Linked DNA regions of Homo sapiens. The protein of the gene in region 1 interacts with the protein of each later gene in a biochemical or structural test. Each region holds a gene or a part of one and is shown in the gene's direction. Other genes may lie near its edges. The genes, in order: MLC1, ROCK1 and MYLK.

Region 1 (7,968 bases):
TTAGTAGAGGCAGGGTTTCGGCATGTTGGCCAGGCTGGTCTCGAACTCCTGACCTCAAGTGATCCACCCACCCAGGCCTTCCAAAGTGCTGGGATTACAGGTGTGAGCCACCGCACCTGGCCTCTTTCTCCTTCTTACTTTCAACTTTTCTTGCCTTGTACTTTGGTATAATTGTTATAAGCAGCACGTAACTGTATTTTGTTCTTTATCTTGTCATTCTCTCTCCCTAGCTTTTTGAATGTAGCCCATTTCCTCTGAGAGTTATTACTGATAAATTTCTACTTATTTTTACCATCTTTTGAGTTTTCCATTTTCCCTGATTTTGCCTTTTTCCCTCCTTCCCTGCCTTCTTTTGAATTGGCAGAGGCTCCGTCCTTCCTTTTCCCTCTAATTTTGGATGGGAAATTTTTCAGTATTCTTTTGGGGGTTGCCCTTCATATTCTAATACGCTCCTTGATAAACAGACCATGCGGGGTCTGTCCCCCTTCCCTCCGCCTTGGCCTTGTTGTCTAGCTTGTGACATTTAGTGACATTTTGCCTTTTTACTCCAACAATGGGACAGCCTCCTGTGTGCTTGACTGTGTCTGTGTGTGTTTCCCAGTGCCTTCACTTCCCCTTATTTAGCATTTCAGTCCTCTCTTAGGTTCCATTTCCGTTCTGCTTCTTTTTTTTTTTTCCTTTTTTTTTGAGATGGAGTCCTGCTGTTGCCCAGGCTAGAGTGCAGTGGTGTGATCTTGGTTCACTGCAACCTCTGCCTCCTGAGTTGAAGCGATTCTCCCGCCTCAGCCTCCCGAGTAGCTGGGATTACAGGTGCCCGCCACCACGCCCAGCTAATTTTTGTTATTTTTAGTAGAGACGGGGTTTACCATGTTGGCCAGGCTGTACTCAAACTCCTGACCTCACGATCCGTCTGCCTCGGCCTCCCAAAGTGCTAGGATTACAGGCATGAGCCGCCGTGCCTGGCTGGGAATTCAGCTTTATTTGTGCATCTGGAGTTTTGTGCCTTCTGGACGCAAGGCCTGGCTGCCCAGGTCCCTTCCGGCCCCCAAGCCCTTGCTGGCCCACTCCTTATGCCTGGCTTTCCTGCTGGCCACAGCTCTGTGTTTGCGACTCACAGAGATCCTTCACGGGAGCAGGTTTTCGGGCGTGTGTTTCTTCCCCAGCCCTCCCTGAGTCTGGCGGTGCTGGTTGCGGCCCCTCCCTGAGTCTGGCGGTGCTGGTTGCGGCCCCTCCCTGAGTCTGGCGGTGCTGGTTGCGGCCCCTCCCTGAGTCTGGCGGTGCTGGTTGCGGCCCTGATGGTGCCGGGCAGATGAGTCCACAACCAGGGCTTAGGCCAGCAGGGTTCTTGGCTTTGTCCAGGAAAGAATTCAAGGGCGAGCTGGAGGTGACAGACAGCAGCTTTGTTTGCAGTGGCAGTATAGCAGGGCTCTCCAACCGGCAGGTGCCTCGAGCAGCAGCTCAGAGACAGCTCTGCCTCCTATTTATACCCACTTTTAAGTATATGCTAATTAAGGGGCAGATTATGCAGAAATTTCTAGAAAAGGGGTGCTAACGTCCAGGTGGTTGGATCATTGCCACGGAAAGGGGTGGTGACGTCCAGTGTTGCCGTGGCAATGGCAAACCCACATGGCACGGGTGGGTGTGTCCTATGGGAAGCTACTTCTGCCCCAGGCCTGTTTTCCCGAGTCCCTTCGATGGGGTCCAGGGTCTGAGCACCGCCGCCTGCCACACTGTGAGACAGGGAAGGGAGTCTGAGGGTCTTGGTTTTCTGCCCTCACCACTGTCAGGTCAATACCCTCAGTTTCTGTGGACAAAAGCAGCAGTGGGGGAAACACCTCTTTGGCTATTTTACTCCAGGAGGGACGTGAAAAGCCGCAGCTGAGGGCAGAGGGGGTCTGGGCCAGGTGAGGCTGGGGGTCCATCCAGGTGGGCTCCTCCACGGTTAGATCTGGGGCCAGCCCACTGGACCCTGCTCCTGGGGGTCCATGTCTGCACAGTGCATTCTGGGAATCTGGGGGTGTCTCCACTTCCTTATGAGCCGATGCTGTCCTGTCCCCTCCAGGTCGTCGAGGTAATCGCAGGCATCTCTGCCGTCCTCGGGGGGATCATTGCCCTGAACGTGGATGACTCAGTTTCAGGCCCACACCTCTCAGTGACGTTCTTTTGGATCCTAGTGGCCGTGAGTAACCCCTCTGGCCCGCCCGCCGCCGCTCTGGGCCACACTGCTCAGATCCTGCGTGGCTGGGCCCCGAGCTCAGTCTTGGTGCATTCAGACAGAGAGTCACCACAGAGGGTCCTCGCTGGCCCCCAACTTCAGAAGAACTGGGGAGTTAAGGATTAAATGAGTCAAAGTATTAACTGCTTTTATATTAGTTTGTGTGATTATTTTATATTATTTTTCCTGAAAAAAATACCAATTATTTTTATTATTCTAATCTTTTTAACATATGAATGTCAGGCTGTAGATGTTTATTATTCTATATAATTTTCTAATATATAATGCATTTATATTACACTATGTGTTTCATACAATGCAGCATATTTCTGTTATTACTTTACATTAAATGTTACTGCAGCAGATGTGTCACACAGCACCTGACACATGCCACATGCTCAATACATGGGCATTGTTTTATTTATTTTATTTATTTATTTTTTTGAGATGGAGTCTCACTCTGCCACCCAGGCTGGAGTGCAGTGGCTCAATATCACCTCACTACAACCTCTGCCCCTCCCCGGGTTCAAGTAATTTGCCCACCTCAGCCTCCCAAGTAGCTGGGATTACAGGCGTGGACCACCATGCCCAGCTAATTTTTTTGTATTTTTAGTAGAGACCGGGTTTTGCCATGTTGGCCAGGCTGGTCTTGAACTCCTGACCTCAAGTGATCTGCCTGCCTCGGCCCCCAAAAGTGCTGGGATTACAGGTGTGTTCCCTCAGAACAGTGAGTCTAGAGCAACCCCTCCACACCCCAGATCCCCTCACAGCCTGTAGCCCACCCAGAGCCACCACCCACCTGCCTCCGGACGCAGACCCCACGAGGTTCTCAGCACCTTGCCGCGTAGTGGCCTGCACACCGGTGTTGACGGCCAGCCCCTGGTTTGTCTCATGCTGTGTGGACTTTTAGATTTTGCCCCTGCTCTCTTATGTACATGAGCAGGAATGGTGAGCACCCAGCATCAGCTACAGGCTCCTCCTGGGCAGCAGTGGGGCTCTTCCTGAAGCTGCCGAGGCCCATGCCTGCCTGGGAGCAGTATGGCCAGGTGGACTGCCGAGAAGGGGCCCACGCCTGCCCGGGAATGGTATGGCCGGGTGGACTGCGGAGAAGGGGCCCACGCCTGCCCGGGAACGGTGTGGCCGGGTGGACTGCCGAGAAGGGGCCCACGCCTGCCAGGTGGACACATCCCATTGGCAGCAGCTGTGTTTCAGCTCCCTGTGGGGGCGAGTAGGCACAGAGCAATGCCCCCAGGGCACCAGTGCCCGACCTAGTGGGCTGCTGAGGCGCTCAGAGAGGGAAAGAGACCCAGGCAGGACCGAGCTGGGATAGAGCCACACCCCCGGAAGGGGTAGGACCAGGCCCAGCTACTGAGACAGAGAACTCACATGGGTGCCCACCCAAGCGGGTCTGTGACAGAGAGAATGACGCCTGCAGGTGTGTACAACTGACCCTGGGGTCTGAAACGCAGGGATTACATCCCGAAGCTGAGGGAGGACAGAGACCACATACCTCCAAAAAGTTGAGAATGAAAGGCACTTGCCCTACCCCCTTCCCTGTCCCTGCAGTCAGCCCTCATCACAGAGGCCCCTCCCATCCCGCAGACCCCTCCTGCCTCGGGGGTGGCTCTGCTCTCTCCATCTTCCCGGAGAGCACCCCCTGCCCATCAGGTGCTGCCCCCTGGGCGCCCCTAAATCCACCCACACTCCCAACCCTCTCTTCAGGGCAGGAGACCCCAGGAGGAGAGGAGAGCGCTGAGGCATGCGTGGTGAGGGACCCAGCTCCACCTGCCTGAGTCTGGCCTGGGTGCGGCAGAGGGGCCCAGGCCCTGCACCATGGGCTGGAGGCAGGTGCTCGGGGCTGGAGTTGGGGGCTGGGCTGCAGGCCTGGACCCTTCCAGGGCAGGGCCCTTGATTGAGCTGCCCCAGCCCCTATGGCTGAGCTTCCTGGCCCTCTAGGGCAGGGGCCGGAGTGGCCATGCTGGGTGAACGGGGAAACTCCCGCCCTCCCATGGCTCACTGGGGCCCTGAATAGGCCACCCTGAAGCCACCATCCCTTCCTGTGCCCTCACTGCTGCTTACAGCTAGAAGGCCCTTTCAGAAGCACCAAGCCCAGGAGAGACCCCTGTATTGACACCTCAGCCTCCCTGGCCAGGGCCACACCCACCTCAGCAGCTGGCTTGGGGCCTTTGCACTGGCAGCCCCTCAGCTCCCCAGTCTTCTCCCTGCTGCCCAGGCTCCCCTGCTCGGAGCCCATCTCTGTCCTGCCCACCCTCTCACCACAGCCCCTGGCTGATGCAGCCCCCTCCCCAGCAGGCCGGGCTGGGGTGCTGGCACCTGGACACCTTCGGGGAGATGAAGAGGATGAAGAGCATGCATCCTCCCTCTGCCTACATTGTGCGGAACTAAGGCAGGCTCCTCACAATAAGTGGGAAAAGGGCATTTCTTGGTTATAAAAAGGAAGAGGTGCCCATCCAACAGAGGAACCTACAGATCCCCCTAACCCAGTGAGTCAAGTCAGCGTCATCAGGAAGGGGCAGTCCACACCCTGGGGCACTGCAGAGTCTCCTCCGAGGCTCCCCAAGGCTCATCATGAGGAAATCCTGTCCCACACGGAGGCCCGACTGCAGCTGATGGGCTGCACCCCCCAGAAGCGACCAGGTAACGGAGGTGACAGAGGCTGAGGGACTCCCCGATTAACAGGGACCCACAAGGAGACTACGAGCTCAATGGCAGACCGAATCCGGATCAGGAGCAAACAAACAAACAGCTCTAGAAATAACATGACCAGGGCCAGGTGCGGTGGCTCATGCCTGTAATCCCAGCACTTTGGGAGGCCGAGGCGGGCGGATCACCTGAGGTCAGGAGTTCGAGACCAGCCTGGCCAACAAGGCGAAACCCCGTCTCTACTAAAAATACAAACATTAGCCTGGTGTAGTGGTGGGTGCCTATAATCCCAGCTACTCAGGAGGCTTGAACCTGGGAGGTGGAGGTTGCAGTGAGTCAAGATCGCGCCACCGTACTCCAGCCTGGGTGACAGAGCAAGACTCCATCTTAAAAAAAAAAAGGAGAAGAAGAAAGAAAAATTATTAAAAAATTAAAAAGAAAGAACATGATGAGGACAACTGGAAGAATCTGGGCATGGACCACATCGGCCCCACGTGGAGTCTCTCGAGCGTGGTCCTGCTTTGGGTGTGTGCAAGAGTGTGCCCTGGGCTCAGCCAGCACTCTCAGGTGTTCAGGCATCAGGCTATCTGGGAGAGCTGGAGAGAGCACAGATATGAATGTCAAGGACTCTGGTGATTTTGGGGCCTCAGATGCCCCCTCCACTGCTCTTGCAGCTTTTCTACAGGCTTAAAATTTTAAACCAATGGTTGAGGAACAGAGAGCACACAAAACCTCTGAGAGGCTACCCCTGCTTCCCTGCGGACCCGTCCCTGCCCCAGCTGCGCCTTTGGGCACTGCACCATCCCCCCTGCCCCCCACAGCAAGCCAGCCAGGCAGCCTGCATGGAGGGGTCACTGGTGGGAGGGCACATGTTTGGAATTCGACTTCTTCGACTATTTCCTCTAAAATCTTTCCTTTTTCTTTTCTCTTAGTGCTTTCCAAGTGCCATTGCCAGTCATGTGGCAGCAGAGTGTCCCAGCAAGTGTCTGGTGGGTGAACCCCTCAGCCCTGGGTGCCAGGGACCCACCGAGCGGGGCCAGGGCCTGGCCTAGCCCTCCCTTGGTGCCATGTGACCAGGCTCCAGCCCAAGAGAGCGCAGTGACTGGGCTGCAGGGCCTGCACAATGAGGAAGGTGGGGTTGTGGGAGGTGGAGGCTGGCCCGCTCAGCAGGGACTGTTCTCAGGGACAGGCAGACCTGAACAAGGTGGTGTAGACACTGGAAGCGCTCTCTGTGCCTAACCCTTGGAAGGAGACCAGTGTCTGAGCATCATCTGCACCTCCTAAGGCTGGTCGATTGTTTTTTTTTCTTTTTTGAGATGCAGTCTCGCTCTTGTCCCCCAGGCTGGAGTGCAATGGCACGATCTTGGCTCACTGCAACCTCCGCCTCCCGGGTTCAAGTGATTCTCTTGCCTCAGCCTCCTGAGTAGCTGGGATTATAGGCGCCTGCCACCATGCCCGGCTAATTTTTGTATTTTTAGTAGAGACGGGGTTTCACCATGTTGGCCAGGCTGGTCTCGAACTCCTGACCTCAGGTGATCCACTCACCTCAACCTCCCAAAGTGCTGGGATTACCGGTGTGAGCCACCACGCCCGGCCGAAACTGCCACAAACTGACCGCAAACAATTGAACTGGTCGATCGTTAATGACTGCTGCCAAAATGTGGACCCTGAGTGCTTTGCAAGGTGACTGCCCATGCTTGGCATGAGTGAAGGCTGTCTCTGAGACTTGATGGGTCAAACAGGAAGATTTGGGGTGGGTTAAAAGGACAGACTTCAGAGCAGTGAAGGAGGTGACCCATGCGGAAGGGCTATTTTTTCAAGAGTGGAGAATTGCAGGTAAATGTTTTTTGTTTCTTGGTTTTGTTTGTTTGAGACAGAGTCTTGCTCTGTCACCCAGGCTGGAGTGCAGTGGTACGATCTCAGCTCATTGTAACCTCTGCCTCCCGGGTTCAAGCGATTCTCCTGCCTCAGCCTCCCAAGTAGCTGGGACTACAGGCATGCGCCACCACACCCGCTTAGTTTTTGTATCTTTAGTAGAGATGGGGGTTTCACCATGTTGGCCAGGCTGGTCTCGAACTCGTGACCTCAGGTGATCCGCCCTCCTCGGCCTCCCAAAGTGCTTGGATTACAGATGTGAGCCACCTTGCCTAGATGGTAAGTATTTCAAAACTTGTGGCACTGTGCTGTGAATGAAAAGGCAGGCTGCTCATGCCTGTAATCTCAGCACTTTGGGAGGCCAAGGTGGGTGGATCACAAGGTCAGGAGTTGAAGACCAGCCTGACAATATGGTGAAACCCTGTCTCTACTAAAAATACAAAACAATTAGCCAGGTGTGGTGGCGCATGTCTGTAATCCCAGCTACTCAAGAGGCCGAGGCGGGAGAATTGCTTGAACCCAGGAGGCAGAGGTTGCAGTGATCAGAGATTGTGCCACCGCACTCCTGCCTGGGCTACACAGCTAGGCTGCCTCTCAAAAAAGAAAGAAAGGCAGGCCGGGCGCGGTGGCTCATGCCTGTAATCACAGCACTTTGGGAGGCCGAGGTGGGTGGATCACCTGAGGTCAGGAGTTCAAGACCAGCCTGACCAACGTGGCAAAACACGGTCTCTACTAAAAATACAAAAATTAGCTGGGTGTGGTGGCGGGCGCCTGTAATCCCAGCTACTCGGGAGGCTGAGGCAGGAGAATCACTTGAACCCGGGAGGCGGAGGTTACAGTGAGCCAAGATCATGCCACTGCATTCCAGCCTGGCGACACAGCGAGACTTGTCTCAAAAAAAAAAAAAAAAAAAAAGAAAAAGAAAAAAGAAAAGGCAGAGGTTTCAGCAGGAGTCATGCAGGGAACCAGCTTGGGACTATGCCCATGAGTGCCCGGCCATGCCCGCCCCCCCAGCCCTGGCCACGCCCGCTGTCCTGGGCTCCCAGGCTCCGGCCGTGGTCCTGCAACCCGCGCTTTTTTTCCAGGTGGAGGTCCTGATTGCCATAAGCAGCCTCACGTCTCCGCTGCTGTTCACAGCCTCTGGATATCTGTCATTCAGCATCATGAGAATCGTGGAGATGTTTAAGGATTACCCGCCAGCCATAAAAGTGAGT
Region 2 (10,877 bases), on another chromosome or scaffold:
AACAGTATTTGTTTTTATATGTTGACCTTGAATCATTTAATCTTGCTTTGCACTTAACAGTTTTATAGGGTTGTGGGGTTTTGGGATCAATTCCACAGAGCTTTTCTACACACAGTCAGCCCTCTGTATCCATGGGTTCTGCATCTGTATATTCATCCAAACATGGATTGAAAATGTAGTTAGGCCTATTGTGGTTGTGTCTGTACTTAATATGTACAGTTTTGTTTTTCTCTAAACAATATAATATAATAACAATTTCCATAGCATTTACATTATATTAGATATTATCTAGAGACAATTTTAAATATACAGGAAGGTGTACTTAGGTTATATACAAATACTACACCATTTCTTATCTTTTCTTTTTTTCCTGTCTCTTCCCTCCTTCCCTCTCTTTCTCTCTCTTTCTCTTTCACTCTCTCTCTTCAAAATCCTCCTGGGTCCTGGGACCAATCTGCCACAGATACCACGAGACAACTGCATACAATCATGTCATCGCCAAATAAAGAGTTTTACTCCTTTCTTTCCAATCTGTATGCCTTTCTCACGTGTATAGATTTGTATGACCACCACCACACTCAAAATACAGAACAATTCCATCACAAGTGTCCCTGTGCTACTCCTTTTGTAGTCAAAAGGCAGCTTCCTTCCTCCACCTCTCCCTAATCCATAGCAACATTAATCTGTTCTCCATCTCCATAATTTTGTCTCTTCAAGAGTGTTATATGAATGGAATCAAATAATGTGTAATCTTTTCTGATCAGCTTTTTTTCCCATTCAGTATAATTCCCTTAAGATCAATCCAAGTATAATTTGTTTTTTTCTTGTTGAGTAGTATTCCATAGTATAGATGTATCACAGTTTGCTTACCCATTTATTTGGGTTGTTTCTAGGTTTTGGTTATTATGAATAAAGCTCCTATGAACATCTATGTGCAGGTTTTTTTAAATAGATATAAAATGTTATATGAATTTTTGTTTCTTGAAATTAAAGGCCCAACAGTGCAATTTGCTGGGTTATATGGTAAGCATATGTTTAGTTTTCTAAGAAATTGCCATATTCTTTTTCCAGAGTGGCTGTGTAATTTTATGTTTCCATCAGCAGTATATGAGTGATTTACTTTCTCTGCATTCTCACAAGCATTTGATGTTACTACTGTTTTTATTTTTTTTAACTCTGATAGATGTGTAGTGACACTTATTGTGGTTTTAATTTGCATTTCTCTAATGACTGATGATGTTGAATATCTTTTTGTGTGCTTATTTATCACCCATATGTCCTCTTTAGTGAAATGTCTTTTACAATAAATGAGTTTTTGTAAATGGCCTGTATTTATTTTCATTTTAGTAAACTGTTTCACGTTAGACCTGTAACCCAAGGAGATGTGTATAGAGCTGAAACTGAAGAAATTCCTAAAATATTCCAGGTAAAAATCTGAAGTTATAATTTTAAAGAATCTAAGTCCTAAGCGTTTTTGTGAAGTAAATGTAAAATATACCAATGCTTAAGATTTTTAAAATCTTTTCCTTTCACCATTCCTGAATGTAGATACTATATGCAAATGAAGGTGAATGTAGAAAAGATGTAGAGATGGAACCAGTACAACAAGCTGAAAAAACTAATTTCCAAAATCACAAAGGCCATGAGTTTATTCCTACACTCTACCACTTTCCTGCCAATTGTGATGCCTGTGCCAAACCTCTCTGGCATGTTTTTAAGCCACCCCCTGCCCTAGAGTGTCGAAGATGCCATGTTAAGTGCCACAGAGATCACTTAGATAAGAAAGAGGACTTAATTTGTCCATGTAAAGGTAAGGCATGGTAATTATTGTTACAACTTATAACAAATTTAATTTTAAGTCTCAATGAACTAACTTATGTGTAGTGATTTCTATACCAAGTTGAAAAGAGATTATAGAAAGTATTATTTTGACACTGGTGGGGCAATATGCAGCTATTTACAGATTTAGCTTTTAAAAATGTTTTTATTTATTTTTATTGATTGACTGATTGATTGAGATGGATTCTCACTCTGTCTCGCCCAGGCTGGAGTGCAGTGGCGTGATCTCAGCTCACTGCAGCCTCTGCCTCCCAGGTTCAAGTGATTCTCCTATCTCAGCCTCCTGAGTAGCTGGGACTATAGGCGTGTGCCACCACACCCGGCTAATTTTGTATTTTTAGTAGAGATGGAGTTTCACCATGTTGTCCAGGCTGGTTTCGAACTCCTGACATCAGGTGATCCACCCACCTCGGCCTCCCAAAGTGCTGGGATTACAGGTGTGAGCCATTGCACGCCCGGCCAACAGTGTTTTTAAAGAGAATCACCCCCTTGTAAACAAACAAAAACAAACAAACATGCTGCTAAGAAATTATTCCAAGTTGGAGAGAAGAGCAACAGGTGAGTTCCACTCTATTCCTCCCTTGAGTTTTTCCTCTTCTTTTTGTCTGGCATTCACTGCCTGGATCAGCATGCATGCTGTATCACAGAATATCTTCTAGTTTTACAGAGGTAGCTTGAGGGAAAGAATACAGACCATAGCTATTTTCAGATAAGAAGCTTATGTTCTTTAAATACATTTATTTGTTTTACATTTTGTTATATTTCTGATTTTACTTTATTAGTTTGACTAATTTTTTTTTTTAATTTCAGCCTTATTTAACTTAAGGAGAATGAGATATTGTTCATGCTTAATTAAGCATATTAAAACTTTTAAAACCTTAAGAACTTGAAAAACTATGCATTTGATAGGTTGGATTTTAAAAAACTATATGGCTTTAATTATGCTTTTTTTTTCCTCCTTAACATAGTAAGTTATGATGTAACATCAGCAAGAGATATGCTGCTGTTAGCATGTTCTCAGGATGAACAAAAAAAATGGGTAACTCATTTAGTAAAGAAAATCCCTAAGAATCCACCATCTGGTTTTGTTCGTGCTTCCCCTCGAACGCTTTCTACAAGATCCACTGCAAATCAGTCTTTCCGGAAAGTGGTCAAAAATACATCTGGAAAAACTAGGTAAGGATTTGAAATGCTAACGTTTTTAACAATGTGAAAATGATTGGATAACAGCTATTAAAATCAGAAATCTAATTGTGCTTTTCACCACAGAGGGCATCATTTTTAGGTATTTGTATGTGAATTGCAGTGACTTTATAAATTAGTTTAACTTATTCTTGTTAGAGTTTAATAATAATAATACATGCAATATTATATTTATTTAGTTCTGTGTCTAATTTTATTGTCATAAGTTGCTGTACATGGCATAGTTTTAGCCCTTAATGCTTTAACCAACTTAATTTTTTTAATGCAGAAATTCATATAAAACTTTTCATCATCTTTTCTGTTTTTTAACTGTGTTGGCATAGTTTTTCTACAAAAACCAAAATTGTTTTTCCCTTTTTTGTTAACTTCCCATACTATCCCAACATACAAAATTATTTGGTATTATCAGTGACTATGTTTTTTTAATTATTATACTTTAAGTTCTGGGATATATGTGCAGAACATGCAGGTTTGTTACATGGGTATACACGTGCCATGGTGGTTTGCTGCACCCATCAACCCATCATCTACATTAGGTATTTCTCCTAATGCTATCCCTGCCCTAGCCCCCCATCCCTCGACAGGCCCTGGTGCGTGACGTTCCCCTCCCTGTGTCCATGTTTTCTCATTGTTCAACTCCCACTTACGAGTGAGAACCTGTGGTGTTTGGTTTTCTATTCCTGTGTTAGTTTGCTGAGAATGATGGTTTCCAGCTTCATCCATGTCCCTTCAAAGGATGTGAACTCATGACCCCCTTTTTTTTTTTGTTTTTTGAGACAGAGTCTCACTCTGTCACCCAGGCTGGAGTGCAGTGGTGGCGCTATCTCAGCTCACTGCAACCTCCACCTCCCAAGTTCAAGCAATTCTCCAGCCTCAGCCTCCCAAGTAGCGGGGATTACAGACGCATGCCACGCCTGGCTAATTTTTGTATTTTTAGTAGAGAGAGGGTTTCATCATGTTGGCCAGGCTGATCTCAAACTCCTGACCTCAAATGATCTGCATGCCCCAGCCTCCCAAAGTGCTGGGATTACAGGCGTGAGCCACCATGCCTGGCTGTTTAACTATTTTTGATGGACTTTTTTCCAAAAATATGTTTTATGCCATGATAAACAATTATAAGGCATAACCATTCATTCATTCATTCATTCATTCATTCATTCATTCATTTTGAGACAGAGTCTCGCTCTGTCACCCAGGCCAGAGTGCAGTGGCGCAATCTCAGCTCACTGCAACCTCTGCCTCCCAGGTTCAAGCTATTCTCCCACCTCAGCCTCCTGAGTAGCTGGAATTACAGGCACATGCCACCACGGCCTGCTAATTTTTGTATTTTTAGTAGAGATGGAGTTTAACATGTTGGCCAGGCTGGTCTTGAACTCCTGACCTCAGGTGATGCACCTTCCTGGGCCTCCCAAAGTGCTGCGATTACAGGCATGAGCCACCGCACCAGGCAGTTAACTCTTTCTTGGAGAGAAATAATGAAATCTCATCTCATTAAGTTCTCATTTTACACATTAGTAAATAAGGCTCAGAGAAATTAAGCAGTTTGCTCAATCACACAGCCAATGGATTGGAAACCATTTCTGTCCAATTCTAAAGCCTATGTTGTCCAATTCCAAAGCCTCTATTCTACCACATACCACCTTCCCTAGAGTGTACTCCCTAGATTAATAGGGCCACTCGAATTAGAAGCTGAGACCTAACACTGATTTGCCTCGCTGCCAATGTCACCTACATCTTCCAAGCAGGCTTAAAGCCATCTTGAATTCATCCCTTTTGTTCATGCCCTATTGTCAGTAACCAGGCCTAATTCTTTGAAATGACTTATATCCTTTCCTTTCTCAGCCACCATACTATGCCAGGTATTATCACCTTACTGCTAACTTAATTCTGTAGAATGCTATGTCAGCCTTCTCCTGAGCATAGGTTGTAAACTGGATCTAAAATGATTTGAAATGAGATTATAGCTGAGTAAGAAAATGTGTAGAAACAAAGAGGAGAGAATACTAAGTATATTTTTCCTATTCCTTGTTTTCCAAATTTTGTGTAATTGTTAATTATTTTATGTAAAGATAATGTATATTTACCTTTCCTCCTAATGTTTGTTTCTTGTATTTTTAAACTGAGTGCATTTCTTAAATTAGTTTTTTCCCCCTCCCTCAACAGTTAACCATGTGACTGAGTGCCCTGTGGAATCGTGTGGGATGCTACCTGATAAACCAGGCTTCTTTAACCATGCAGAGCAGACAGGCTGTTTCTTTGACACAAATATCACAGGCTTCAGGGTTAAGATTGCTGTTTTTCTGTCCTTGCTTTGGCACAACACACTGAGGGTTTTTTTTATTGCGGGTTTGCCTACAGGTAGATTAGATTAATTATTACTATGTAATGCAAGTACAGTTGGGGGAAAGCTTAGGTAGATATATTTTTTTTAAAAGGTGCTGCCTTTTTGGATTTATAAGAAAATGCCTGTCAGTCGTGATAGAACAGAGTTTTCCTCATATGAGTAAGAGGAAGGGACTTTCACTTTCAAGTGGAACAGCCATCACTATCAAGATCAGCTCATGGAAGGAGTAAAGAAAATATCTCAAAATGAGACAAACTGAAGTTTTGTTTTTTTTTTAATGACTTAAGTTTTTGTGCTCTTGCAAGACTATACAAAACTATTTTAAGAAAGCAGTGATATCACTTGAACTTCAGTGCCCTCACTGTAGAATTTAAAAGCCTTACTGTTGATTGCCCATGTTGGACTTGATGGAGAAATTAAATATCTTTCATTATGCTTTACAAAATACTGTATATGTTTCAGCAAGTTTGGGGAATGGGAGAGGACAAAAAAAAGTTACATTTAATCTATGCATTTTTGCCAAGCCATATTGAGTTATTTTACTACTAGAGACATTAGGAAACTAACTGTACAAAAGAACCAAGTTTAAAAGCATTTTGTGGGGTACATCATTTCTATAATTGTATAATGTATTTCTTTGTGGTTTTAAATGATAAAGACATTAAGTTAACAAACATATAAGAAATGTATGCACTGTTTGAAATGTAAATTATTCTTAGAACACTTTCAATGGGGGTTGCATTGTCCTTTTAGTGCCTTAATTTGAGATAATTATTTTACTGCCATGAGTAAGTATAGAAATTTCAAAAAATGTATTTTCAAAAAATTATGTGTGTCAGTGAGTTTTTCATTGATAATTGGTTTAATTTAAAATATTTAGAGGTTTGTTGGACTTTCATAAATTGAGTACAATCTTTGCATCAAACTACCTGCTACAATAATGACTTTATAAAACTGCAAAAAATGTAGAAGGTTGCACCAACATAAAAAGGAAATATGGCAATACATCCATGATGTTTTCCAGTTAACATAGGAATTACCAGATAAATACTGTTAAACTCTTGTCCAGTAACAAGAGTTGATTCATATGGACAGTATGATTTATTGTTTATTTTTTTAACCAAATACCTCCTCAGTAATTTATAATGGCTTTGCAGTAATGTGTATCAGATAAGAAGCACTGGAAAACCGATCGTCTCTAGGATGATATGCATGTTTCAAGTGGTATTGAAAGCCGCACTGATGGATATGTAATAATAAACATATCTGTTATTAATATACTAATGACTCTGTGCTCATTTAATGAGAAATAAAAGTAATTTATGGATGGGTATCTTTAATTTTTACTGCAATGTGTTTTCTCATGGCTGAAATGAATGGAAAACATACTTCAAATTAGTCTCTGATTGTATATAAATGTTTGTGAAATTCCATGGTTAGATTAAAGTGTATTTTTAAAAGATAAAACGTGGTCTTGGGCTCTAAAACAAGAGTGGGAATAGTTCACATGAAAAGCTGGCTAAAGTGTGTTGGAAAACAATTCTCCATGGGTCTCTTGCATTTCTACACATCAGGGAAGCAGAGGCTCTGACAACCTTTCTTTTGACTATCTTTTCCAAGGATATTTATGTAGTAAACAGCCTTGGAAGATAGAGTTCTCCCTTGTGAGGATGTCGGGTTCTTTTACTGTCCAGTATAATAAAGATAACGTCTCCCACCTATGATGCAAACCCACTGTGTGCTCAGCACCCACCTGGGCCACTCTGCATTGCCCACATGGGGCTTGGAGGGCAAAGGGAACTGATGGAACGTGAAACTTATGCTGCTTTTGCTGTGCTGTGAATGAAGTCATCTGACTCTGACCCAGGGGTCTCATCTCTTTTGTCAGGATCCATGAAACTGTGACTGGCAGCATGCAAACAGGATAAAATCTCAGCACAGTTCCTGACGGTGTCCTTACTACCTTCTCAGACTCATCACCATTACCTAATATTTTAAGGTCCAGTTGCAGAGAACAGAGTTAATTCTAATTAGTTTAAGCAAGAGAAGACTTTCCAAATGACATACTAATCTGAACTTAGAATTGTTGAGAACTGAGAGAGCTTTGAGGAATCACTCCCAATGCCACATTACAGAACTGGGTCAACCAGGAGAGCTGCTTCCTCTTCTAAGTTCAGGAAACCACTCACTCCCAAGTATACCAATATTGAGAGGGTCCAGATAGTGCCATAATCAGGAATCCACACTACCACTGCTGGTTCTCTGCAACACTTGTCAGGCTTGCTACAATCTACCTCCAGTTAGATGTTTTGTACCATTCCTCTTGCCACTTAAGAACCTCATGTCTGCACACTGCCTCAGAAAAGGCACTTCCATGACCCTGCTTGCTGGCATTTAGCACAGCCTGCATCTCACGTCTGCCTTCTCTAGGTGCATCTACGTGGCCAAAATTAAATCACATCCAGACCCCTAGCTGCAAGAAAGTCTGAGAAATATAGCCTCTAGCTTTCTCTCTAATTTGTTACAGGAGGACACACTAGGAGTGTGGAATGAAGGTTCAGCATTGAGTTAGCCCATGCACCCACACCTGTAAGCTTCTCTGAGATCAGGAACTCCAGCTTTGGGCAACAAAGAAAACATAGCCACTGTCATTATTCACAGGTTCACTCATGACCTGTCATTTGGGGTTTCAGCTTAAATTAACCCATTCACCCTTCATTTAAAGTAAAAAAAATAAGTAAAAGAACTTAAATGACAAACTCATAGTTACTTGAGTTTGTAATTCATAGTTAACTTTCACAGTTCTATAATCAATCTGGAATTCAGAGTGAGGTAGAGATCAAGCAGTATTTCTCCCATATGGATATTCAGTTGATACTGCAGTATTCATTGAAAATACTTCTTTCCTGCATCGTAATTCAGGTGAACAATCCATTGGTGTTATTTCTGTGTCCTTGCCAATATCACACTTTTAATTACTGTAACTTTATAATAAGATTTTATATCTGTAGTAGAAGTCCAACTTTGTAATCCCTCCCAATTGGCTTGGCTATTCTTGGCCTTTTGCATTTCCATATAATTTTTTATTTTTGTTTTGAAACGAAGTTTCGCTCTTGTTGCCCAGGCTGGAGTGCAGTGGCGCGATCTCGGCTCACTGCAACCTCCGCCTCCCAGGTTCAAGTGATCCTCCTGCCTCAGACTCCCGAGTAGCTGGGATTACAGGTGCCCACCACCATGCCCAGCTAATTTTTGTATTTTTAGTAGAGACAGGGTTTCACCATGTTGGCCAGCCTGGTCTTGAACTCCTGACCTCAGGTGATCCACACCCACCTTGGCCTCCCAAAGTGCTGGGATTACAGGCATGAGCCACCGCGCCTGGTTGCATTCCCATATAAATTTAAAAACAATCTACTGAAAGATGTATACGACCTCCACCAAGAAAATTGTAAGACATTTGGAGAAGTTTAAAAAGACATGAATAAACGGAAATGGTTTTTTTAAATAAACAAATGATTTTTAAAGTTGATCATTAGGTTAATAAATAGTCATATAATGACAATCCGATGAGATTATGTTGCCCAGGGTGGTCTCTAACTCCTAGCCTCAAGCAGTTTTACTCTCTCATTACAGGTGTAGGCCACCGTGCCTGGCCTGACACTTGGAAATCTTAATCACAATTATTCTTTGTTTTTATAATGTTTACTGTTCAAATCAATTTCTGGTTGGATAGTATGTATATATAAAGCCATGCTCAATGGCCTAGATATATTTACTGCCAAATCTTTTATGCTTTTAGTGTTTTTTTTCTGGACAAGATCTATGCTTATTGCAATAAATTAAATGCAAAGAATATTCTAGTAGAAAGTCAGTCTGCACTTCCTAAACCCCACCCCACCCCACCAATTCCTTCATAACTGTTATTAACAGTTAGCTGTGTTTTCTAATGGATTATCTCCAAAGTATATGTAACTCAGATTTTTGTGAGGTAGGAAAAGAATAACATTAATTCCACTTCACATATTGAAAGTCTAACATACAAAGAGATTAAATATCTCCTTTCTTTTGCCAAATGTTAATGAATTGTCTTATGAGAATTAAGATATGATACTTTCTCCCAAGCTATACTGTTTCCCATAAAGTATTTGAGATGTTGGAGATTCAAGGGAAAAAATATAAATGCTTAGAAATAAAGTGTATAATGCAAAGATTGTGAATAAAGTGACACTTGTATGTTAATCCTATAAATTGGTTTCTTGTACCATGTAGGATGGTTTGGCTATTAAATTGAATTAAGTGGTTCATTTGCCTGGATAACTGTGAGTGTAGAATCTAACTTTCACTTAGACTAGTTATTTAAGAAAGTCTACAACCGGCCGGGCACAGTGGCTCACGCCTGTAATCCCAGCACTTTGGGAGGCCAAGGTGGGCACATCACCAGGTCAGGAGATTGAGACCAGCCTGGCTAACATGGTGAAACCCCATTTTTACTAAAAATACAAAAACAAAATTAGCCAGGCGTGGTGGTGGGCGCCTGTAGTCCCAACTACTCGGGAGGCTGAGGCAGGAGAATGGCGTGAACTCACAAGGCGGAGCTTGCAGTGAGCCGAGATCACACCACTGCACTCCATCCTGGGCGACAGAGAGAAACTCCATCTAAATAAATAAATAAATAAATAAAGTCTACAACCAAATAATGTGGCAGAAATATAATATGGGCCCAGCTGGGTAAAAGGAAATATTTTGGATCTTCCTTCTACTTAGGCCGAATGGATGTTTCTGGTTTGTTTTGTTTTGTTTTGAAATGGAGTCTTGCTCTTGTTGCCAGGCTGGAGTGCAGTGGTGCGATCTTGGCTCATTACAACCTCCACCTCCCGGGTTCAAGCAGTTCTCCTGCCTCAGCCTCCCGAGTAGCTGGGATTACAGGCGCCTGCCACTATGCCCAGCTAATTTTTGTATTTTTAGTAGAGACGGGGTTTCGCCATGTTGGCCAGGCTGGTCTCGAACTCCTGACCTTGTGATCCACCCACCTCAGCCTCCCAAAGTGCTGAGATTATAGGCGTGAGCCACCATGCCCAGCCTGAATGGATGTTTCTTAGATTTACTCACTCTTGGCCAAGGTTTCATTAGTTCTGGTTGATGTAAGTTCTGTGCTGTGTGCAACACATTTGCTAACTCTGCTCAGGCCTAATTCTCATTCAAAATATGTCAATTAATCACAAGAGGGGCCATCTAAGAGTAGGCATAAAGGAGGTCAAAACTAGAAAAGAAAAAAAAATGTTTCCACTACGTTATTACCTCAAGATCTTGAAATTAAGATGTTTCAAGGTTAAAACGTAACTTTCACCTTTACAAAAAGTATCCTATTCTCAACTTTACAAGGTATTACCAACTATAGGTATTAACATCCCTACTTTATGATAGGACAATTTTATATGTTTAGGCCAGGCACAGTGGCTCATGCCTGTTATCTCAGCACTTTGGGAGGCCAAGG
Region 3 (9,661 bases), on another chromosome or scaffold:
AGGGCATGGGAGTGGAGGGTACTTTATGACCAGCTCTTCCTGACCCAATTTTCCTCATGGTCTGGGTGTTCCTAATTACTTCGAAAAAACAATTTCTAAAATTATTTTGAAAAAACAACATTGAAAAGAACATTAGAATTCTTGATTTCTTATGTATAATTTTTATTCTGGTTAGGGCTCATATTAGCCTGTTTGCATTGCTATAAAGGAATACCTGAGGCTGGAAAATTTATAAAGAAAAGAAGCTTATTTGGCTTGGTGCCAGTATCTGCATCCAGTGAGGCCTCAGGATGCTTTTAATCATAGCAGAAGCAGGCATGTCACATGGCAAGTGAGAGAGCGAGAGAGAAGGACGTGCCACGTTTTAACAACCAGATCCGCATGAAATGACAGAGCAATAACTCACCCATTACCTCGGGAAGGGCACCAAGACATTCATGAGGGATCGGCCTCCATGACCCAAACACCTCCCACCAGGCCCCACCTCCAACACTGGGGATCACATTTCAACATGAGATTCAAGGGGCACAAATATCCAAACCGTATCAGGGCTACAATTTTTTTCCTATAAAAATACTTCACCAACATTTAAGAGAAAGTCAGGTGGAATATATTGTATATTTTTAAATGTATGTATATATATGACTTTAAAAGCGGGGTACATGTATATACTATGTACCTGCAAACAAAATGCATAATGTTGGTAATGCTTCTGTACATATATATGTACACATACACATTAAATACATATAATATATATTTTATATGCATGTGTATTTTATTTTTTAATGCTGAACTTTGCAGAGATATGACTAATGCATAAAGGCTCATTGGTGAGGTCCATTTCCAATTGTCCATAGGCAAATTACCTGCTTTGGATCAGACTAAGACAAATATTGCTTTCTTCTTCTTAGCAATATTATCAGCTCTTTTAAATTATGTTTTATATAGCTGTTATTAGCTTTATTCAGTTATAATTTATATACTATAAAATTCACCTATTTTAAATGCACAATTCAATTATTTTTAATGAATTTATACCACAATCCAATTTTAGAACATTTTCATCACTCCAAAAAGATCCCTTGTTCCCATTTTGTTTTGACTCTTATTTTTCATTTAAATTATTTCACTTAAACTATTATACAAAATTGAAAATTTAGGCTGGGCATAGTGGCTCACGCCTGTAATCCCAACACTTTGGAAGGCCAAGGCAGGCAGATCACTTGAGTCCAGGAGATCAAGACCAGCCTGGGCAACATGGTGAAACCCTATCTCTACAAAAAATACGAAAATTAGCTGGGTGTGGTGGTGTGTACCTGTAGTCTGAGCTATGCAGTAGGCTGAGGTGGAAGGATCACTTGAGCCTGGACATTGGAAGTTGCAGTGACCCGAGATCATGCTGCTGCACTCCTGCCTAGGCAACATAGTGAGACTCTGTCTCAAAAAAAAAAAAAGATAGAAAATTGTATTTTCGGCCGAGCACAGGTAGCTCACACCTGTAATCCCAGCACTTTGGGAGGCCAAGGCAGGCAGATTACCTGAGGTCAGGAGATACAGACCAGCCTGGTCAACATGCTGAAACCCTGTCTCTACTAAAAATACAAAAATTAGCCGGGTGTCGTGGCGTGCACCTGTAATCCCAGCTACTCAGAAGGCTGAGGCACAAGAATCACTTGAACCAAGGAGGCGGAGGTTACAGTGAGCCAAGATCACGCTACTGCACTCCAGCCTGGGCGACAGAGTGAGACTCTGTCTCAAAAAAAAAAGGAAAAAGAAAATTGTATTTTCAATCTAAGAAGGTATTCAGATCTAGGTGTAGAGTTGGAATTGGAGCAGTATTTCAGGTAGTACTCTATTTTTAATTTTTATTTTTTTGCCATGTTGGCCAAGCTGGTCTTGAACTCCTGCCCACCTTGGCCTCCCAAAGTGCTGGGATTACAGGTATGAGCCACCATGCCTAGCCTCAGGTAGTACTCTATGTCTGTTTAAAGATGGGTGGGTGTGGTGGCTCACACCTGTAATCCCAGCACTTTGGGAGGTCAAGGTCAGAGGATCACTTGAGCCCAGGAGTTTGAGACCAGCCTGGGCAACATAGGGAGACCCTGTCTTTACAAAAAAAAAACTTTTTAAAAAATTAGCCAGGCATGGTGGCATGTACCTATAGCTCCAGCTACTTGGGAGGCTGAGGGAGGAGGATCACTTGAGCCCAGGAAGTTGAGGCTGCAGTGAGCCATGTTCATGCCACTGCACTCCAGCCTAGGTGATAGAATGAGACCCTGCCCCCCTACCCCCCAAAAAGTGAAAGGTGTGATGTTTAACTGAGCACGGTCGCTCATGCCTATAGTCTCACTACTCAGGAGGCTGAGAAGGGAGGATCGTTTGAGCCCAGGAATTTGAGCAACAGTAAGCTACGATCATGCCACTACACTCCAGCCTAGGCAACAGAGTGAGACTCATCACTTTAAAAAAATAAAAAAACTATTAAATAAGTTTTTTAATAGGTGGGATGTGGTGCTAGTCCAACATGTGTGGGAAATGGAACAACTTTAAAATATTCTATTTGGGGTTTCAGATATTGGTATTTACAAGACATGTCCATATTCTAATGTAGATATCAAAACAGTCGATAAAGGCCAACATCAAAATTTTCTCCTTAACCACCTTAATCAATAGTGGTAGCTTACAAGTTGCTTGCATGAGTTGATAAGAAATTTTGAATAACAGTTCCTGCAACTTGTGTTCTCTCCCTGTGATGCAGGATACCCAGACCCCGAGGTTGTCTGGTTCAAAGATGACCAGTCAATCAGGGAGTCCCGCCACTTCCAGATAGACTACGATGAGGACGGGAACTGCTCTTTAATTATTAGTGATGTTTGCGGGGATGACGATGCCAAGTACACCTGCAAGGCTGTCAACAGTCTTGGAGAAGCCACCTGCACAGCAGAGCTCATTGTGGAAACGATGGAGGAAGGTGAAGGGGAAGGGGAAGAGGAAGAAGAGTGAAACAAAGCCAGAGAAAAGCAGTTTCTAAGTCATATTAAAAGGACTATTTCTCTAAAACTCAAAAAAAAAAAAAAAACTCAAGATAGTAAAAGCACCTAGTGTGATAGATTATCGGTTAGGTCATTTGTGGGTTGATTCTTCAGAAACAGCAGTTGATACCTAGCAGCGTTATTGATGGGCATTAATCTATGTTAGTTGGCACCTTAAGATACTAGTGCAGCTAGATTTCATTTAGGGAAATCACCAGTAACTTGACTGACCAATTGATTTTAGAGAGAAAGTAACCAAACCAAATATTTATCTGGGCAAAGTCATAAATTCTCCACTTGAATGCGCTCATGAAAAATAAGGCCAAAACAAGAGTTCTGGGCCACAGCTCAGCCCAGAGGGTTCCTGGGGATGGGAGGCCTCTCTCTCCCCACCCCCTGACTCTAGAGAACTGGGTTTTCTCCCAGTACTCCAGCAATTCATTTCTGAAAGCAGTTGAGCCACTTTATTCCAAAGTACACTGCAGATGTTCAAACTCTCCATTTCTCTTTCCCCTTCCACCTGCCAGTTTTGCTGACTCTCAACTTGTCATGAGTGTAAGCATTAAGGACATTATGCTTCTTCGATTCTGAAGACAGGTCCCTGCTCATGGATGACTCTGGCTTCCTTAGGAAAATATTTTTCTTCCAAAATCAGTAGGAAATCTAAACTTATCCCCTCTTTGCAGATGTCTAGCAGCTTCAGACATTTGGTTAAGAACCCATGGGAAAAAAAAAATCCTTGCTAATGTGGTTTCCTTTGTAAACCAGGATTCTTATTTGTGCTGTTATAGAATATCAGCTCTGAACGTGTGGTAAAGATTTTTGTGTTTGAATATAGGAGAAATCAGTTTGCTGAAAAGTTAGTCTTAATTATCTATTGGCCACGATGAAACAGATTTCAACTGATAAAGAGCTGGAGAACTCCATGTACTTTGGAATCTCCTCCAAGATAGCCAGAGTTTAATACATCTTCATTCTCAACACTCTCCAAAGAACTTGACCTACCTTATGGGTTCCATATTTTTCTTCTTAAATGTGCATCAATCATGCCTTGCCCCCAACCTTTAAATATATTCTTAGACCTGGTAAATGCACTCAGACTTGCGTCTTTAGGAATTTTTAACTTTCTTTCACTACATTGGCACTTAAATTTTTTCTTTATAAAGCTTTTTGAAGGTCATAAACAAAGACCATAATTGATGATAGACCTAATACATTTCCTCTGTGTGTGTGTGTAACATTCCAAATACTTTTTTTTTCTTTTCCACTGTTTGTAAGGTGCAACAATTTAATATTTTTAAGGGACTTTTTAAGAGTTCCTTAAGAACCAATTTAAAATTACTTCAGTGCAATCCTACACAGTATCAACATTAGAATTTTGATATTAGTCTTATGTTATCTTCCATTCTATTTTTATCTGCTTTTTGCTGCTAGTTTCAAACTGCCAGTATTTTTCCTTTTGCTTTTAAAATAGTTACAATATTTTTCATGATAGCCACAGTATTGCCACAGTTTATTATAATAAAGGGTTTTTATTTGATTTAGCGCATTCAAAGCTTTTTTCTATCACTTTTGTGTTCAGAATATAACCTTTGTGTGCGTGTATGTTGTGTGTGTGCATGTGTGGCGTATATGTGTGTTACAGGTTAATGCCTTCTTGGAATTGTGTTAATGTTCTCTTGGTTTATTATGCCATCAGAATGGTAAATGAGAACACTACAACTGTAGTCAGCTCACAATTTTTAAATAAAGGATACCACAGTGCATGCTGTTTGTTCAATCTTTGCAGACTTCTCTTTCTTTCCATGCTACCAGTTGTAAAGGACACAGCTATATCCTGGAAATGAAAAACAAACACTGTGGTGCCTAGATGTGAAGAACTGGCTTATGTGGTTGTGTTTTGCTATGGAACAGAATGATTTAGGAAGTTCTTGTTTATATAGGTAGCCGAATTTACACATTTAGTTCAAAATTTCTCTTGAGCATCAGCTTAGTACTATATCAATCATTCTAGAAGGATATCTTATAGAGCAGGTGTCCCCAACCCCCGGTAAGTAGCCTGTTAGGAACCAGGTCACACATAAGGAGGTTAGCAGTGGGCAAGTGAGCAAAGCATCATCTATATTTACAGCCGATCCCCATTGCTCGCATTACCGCCTGAGCTCTGCCTCCTGTCAGATCAGCGGCAGCATCAGGTTCTCTCAGGAACGAACTCTATTGTGAACTGCTCATGTGAGGGATCTAGGTTTCACGCTCCTTATGAGAATCTAACACCTGATGATCTGTCACTGTCTCCCATCACCCCTAGATGGGACAGTCTAGTTGCAGGAAAACAAGCTCAGGGCTTCCACTGATTCTACATTATGATGAGTTGTATACTTATTTTATATTATAATAAAATATATTATTACAATGTAATAATAATAGAAATAAAATGCACAATACATGTAATGTGCTTGAATAATCCCAAAACCACCCCCTCTCCTGGTCCATGGAAAAACTGTCTTCCATGAAAGTGGTCCCTGGTGCCAAAAAGGTTAGGGACCACTGTTACAGAGTATCAGGTCCTCAAGATGCTAAAATCTATATGACATTTTTAACATGTGACATTATCATCATCATCATCATCATCATCACTGATGATACTATTTACCAGGGCATGGTTTGAATTGGTGACTTTGGTGCAGTTCATTATTGGCAGCCAAATGCTTTATCCATACCTTCATATTGAAGAATTTGTTATCAGGAAACTACCAGTCCTGCTTTACAGGAAGTCTGTTATCAGATATCAGATGGCAAGTTCCCCATGTCTTCAGATGTTCAAACAATATTGTGGATGGTCTAGAAAGAGTTTAAGACATGCTGTTAAATGTAGGGCTAGATAATTCTCTGATTCTTTGATGTAGTCTGGAAAGAAACAATCCATTGTCCAGTTAATAAATATTTAGTGTTTTCATTTTTAAGACACTCACAATCCACAAATGTCCCTAACAATTTATTATTTTTAAAGAAAATGACTTTTTATTCCTTGCTAGTGAAAAATGTACAATTTATATGCTGCACTGAGAAAAATAACAGATATACTTTCTTCCATTCATTTTCATCCCAAACATATAAAAAATAATCCATTGATTGTTCCTTGCATTGCATATCTTATTAAAAGATATTTCCTACATGCAACTAATAAGACATGCTGACTGTTGTCAGCTCTAAATTTATGTAAAGATTTTTTATTTTTGTTAAAATGTTTGAAATTTGCTTTTTGCTCCACACCTCACCTGTTTTTGATAAATCTGTGCTAATAAGTACATAGGAGGTAATAAATAATTGAGTTGTGAGAAACCCAATTCTCCATTTTTCAAGAAAACACAAGTAGCACTACTCTCTTTATCCCTTGGGACTCCTTCCTGTAATTTGAAAGGGGGGGCTAATGTTGGTGGCAGTTGTTGCTAAGGATCTCTGCACAGAGTTAGGGCTTCACTCTCGGCTTCCTGGTTAGATGGGGCCATGTGACTAGTCCTAGTCAGTGAGCTGTGACCAGAAGTGATGTATGTACCCTCGGGACCAGAGCATTTATGTGCTGGTACAAGCCTCTCCATAATGACGGGCAACACATGAGATGGTGGCTGCTGCAGCCATCTGGGTCTCTAGCCAACCCAAAATGGGGACATAACACAAGCAAGAAATAAACATTTGTTCTTATAAATCACCAAGATTTTGGGGTTCTCAGTGGCTGCAACATAACCTAGACTATCCTGATACAGGCTTATCACCATGTTCTGGATGTGTGGTGACCAGGATGGTAGCCACTACTCACAAGTGGCTATTTAAATTTAAGTTACTTTAAAAAATAAAATAAAAAATTCAGTTCCTCAGTTGTATGAGTTACATTTCAAATGCTCGACAGTCACATGTACATCACTTTTCAAATTATGTGAAATTAAAACTGAAAAGCTTGTGTGAAAGTCTAGAGAGTATGGTCTATAGTTTCATCAATTGTATTGGATAATATAGTCTCGATACTCAAGTGTTGTTGTTCTTAATTCTTTATTTATATTCAAATATAGTTTTTCACTTTTTAAGACATTTTAAAGGCTGGGTACAGTGGTACACACCTGTAGTCCCAGCACTTTGGGAGGCCAAGGCAGGAGAATCGCTTGAGGCCAGAAGTTCAAGACCAGCCTGCACAACATAGCAAGACCCCATCTCTATTTCTTTAAAAAAAATTAATTAAAAAATAAAAAGACATTTTAAAAGTACCAGTTCTGGCCAGGCGCGGTGGCTCACGCCTGTAATCCCAGCACTTTGGGAGGCCAAGGCAGGCGGATCACGAGGTCAGGAGATCGAGACCATCCTGGCTAACACGGTGAAACCCCGTCTCTACTAAAAATACAAAAAATTAGCCGGGCGTGATGGCGGGCGCCTGTAGTCCCAGCTACTCGGGAGGCTGAGGCAGGAGAATGGCATGAACCCGGGAGACAGAGCTTGCAGTGAGCGGATATTGCGCCACTGCACTCCAGCCTGGGCGACAGAGTGAGACTCCATCTCAAAAAAAAAAAAAAGTACCAGTTCTATGCTTCTGACCTCAAAATCTAAATAGTCCTGCAATTCACAAGCAACTCTCAGATTATTTCTGATATGAGACAACCAACAAGGCCAACATTCTCCAACGTCTTTGGAATTTGCTACTTGAGATGGGGGATCACCAGTGGGGACTATGAGATGGATGCAGAAAGGGAGACAGGGCTGCTGAGGCAGAATTTCCTCAACCATGGGTCAAAAGGCAGAGGAGCCATCCTGAGGCTACAATCCTTCCAAACTCAGCTGCCTTTTATCAGAACTCCCTTCCCACTGGAATTCAAAACACTCAGGAGATCTAAAGTGCTTGGGGACAACATTGAATTTCTAACCGCTGCTGGCTGGAGATTTTAGCCCATAGGCCTTACCCGTGTTCCAAATGCTTATACCCTGCAGGAAGCGCTTCATGTCAGAGACTTCAGTCCCCCGAGTCTCTGTTTGAGGCCTGTGGTAAATTTTCACAAGATATTTTGTGACTCTCTTAGACTAGATTTCTTTCGGCTGGAGATAACTAAGGGAGAAGGAGGTTACAAATTAACCTAAGTCAATTTGGTCATTCATATTTATTATTAATAACATCTTTAAGGCAGGTATCAGTAGCCTCCAATAGTTAAGATAAGATTGAGCTATGGGGCTTCTCCACAACCACGCTTCAGGTGGTATGTTTCAAAGATAGTCTCAGGCCAAACTTGTCAAACACCTATTAGCCAGCAGCCATACAACCGATTCTGCAAGCTCCATGAAGTCCCAGATATGCCTCTCCAGAAAGCACCTTGCATGTTGTCACTGAAGGCAAATCCTGCAGTGTGCTTGGGTAGGAGGCAGCTAACCTGGTTAATCAGTGGAGTCAGTTCCTCTTGGTGCTATCCTAGGAACCAACTTGTCCAACTTACCCACCATTTTCATTCCCTCTGTAAAATAAGTTACTACCTCTTACCTCTACCTCTTACTACAGCTGTGTAGCTTGTGCCTCAGTTTCCACAGTTATAAAATTAGAGTTATAGTAGTTCCTCACTCATGGCTTGATAGAAAGATTAAACAAGCTCTATGTGCCTGACCTTATGGTACGCCCTCATTCTGGCACTCAGAGATGCTAAGATGTATCAGAAACAATCTCTACTCTGAAAGAACAGATTACATTTCTGCAGGAAAAAAAAAACCCCAAATATGTGAAAAAGTTATATTCAGTCAGCCCTCTGTATCCATGCATTCCAAATCTATGGATTCAATCAACTGGAGATGAAAAATATTTGGTGGGAGGCTAGGTGTGGTGGCTCGTGCTTGTAATGCTAGCACTTTGGGAGGCCGAGGTGGGCAGATCACCTGAGGTCAGGAGTTCAAGACCAGTCTGGCCAATATGGTGAAACCCTGTCTCTACTAAAATATAAAAATTAGCTGAGCATGATGGCAGGTGCCTGTAATCCCAGCTACTAAGGAGGCTGAGACAGGAGAATTGCTTGAAACCGGGAGACAGTGGTTGCAGTGAGCCGAGATCACACCACTGCACTCCAGCCTGGGTGGCTGAGCGAGATGCTGTCCCCAAAAAAAAAAAAAAATATATATATATATATATATATATATATATATATATATATATATATATATAAATAAACTATATATGTAAAATTATATATAATATATAAAATATATATTATATATAATATATAAAATATATATACTATATATCATATATATTATATTATATATTATATATAAAATATATTATTATATTTATATATTATATATAAAATATATATATAATATAAAATATAGTATATAAAATGTAAAATATATATAGTATATAAAATATAAAATATATATAGTATATAATATAAAATATATAGTATATAATATAAAATATATATAGTATATATAATATAAAATGTATAGTATATATAATATAAAATGTATAGTATATATAATATAAAATATATAGTATATATAATATAAAATGTATAGTATATATAATATAAAATATATAGTATATATAATATAAAATATATATTATATATTATATATAATATAAAATTATATATTATAAAATATAT

Evidence for each region.
Region 2: of the proteins of MLC1 (region 1) and ROCK1, one has a biochemical effect on the other in vitro, tested with the Homo sapiens proteins (one study listed by BioGRID).
Region 3: of the proteins of MLC1 (region 1) and MYLK, one has a biochemical effect on the other in vitro, tested with the Homo sapiens proteins (one study listed by BioGRID).

Annotation. Positions count from the first base shown.
Region 1 is NC_000022.11:50,068,427-50,076,394, reverse strand, and holds part of MLC1 (membrane protein MLC1), read left to right. Parts: intron 1-2,062; coding exon 2,063-2,179; intron 2,180-5,811; coding exon 5,812-5,868; intron 5,869-7,839; coding exon 7,840-7,962; intron 7,963-7,968. UniProt on the Homo sapiens protein: Transmembrane protein mainly expressed in brain astrocytes that may play a role in transport across the blood-brain and brain-cerebrospinal fluid barriers. Regulates the response of astrocytes to hypo-osmosis by promoting calcium influx.
Region 2 is NC_000018.10:20,945,716-20,956,592, reverse strand, and holds the end of ROCK1 (rho-associated protein kinase 1), read left to right. Parts: intron 1-1,347; coding exon 1,348-1,426; intron 1,427-1,548; coding exon 1,549-1,810; intron 1,811-2,807; coding exon 2,808-3,015; intron 3,016-5,205; coding exon 5,206-5,209; 3' UTR 5,210-9,687; downstream 9,688-10,877. UniProt on the Homo sapiens protein: Protein kinase which is a key regulator of the actin cytoskeleton and cell polarity.
Region 3 is NC_000003.12:123,607,450-123,617,110, reverse strand, and holds the end of MYLK (myosin light chain kinase, smooth muscle), read left to right. Parts: intron 1-2,761; coding exon 2,762-3,006; 3' UTR 3,007-7,062; downstream 7,063-9,661. UniProt on the Homo sapiens protein: Calcium/calmodulin-dependent myosin light chain kinase implicated in smooth muscle contraction via phosphorylation of myosin light chains (MLC). Also regulates actin-myosin interaction through a non-kinase activity.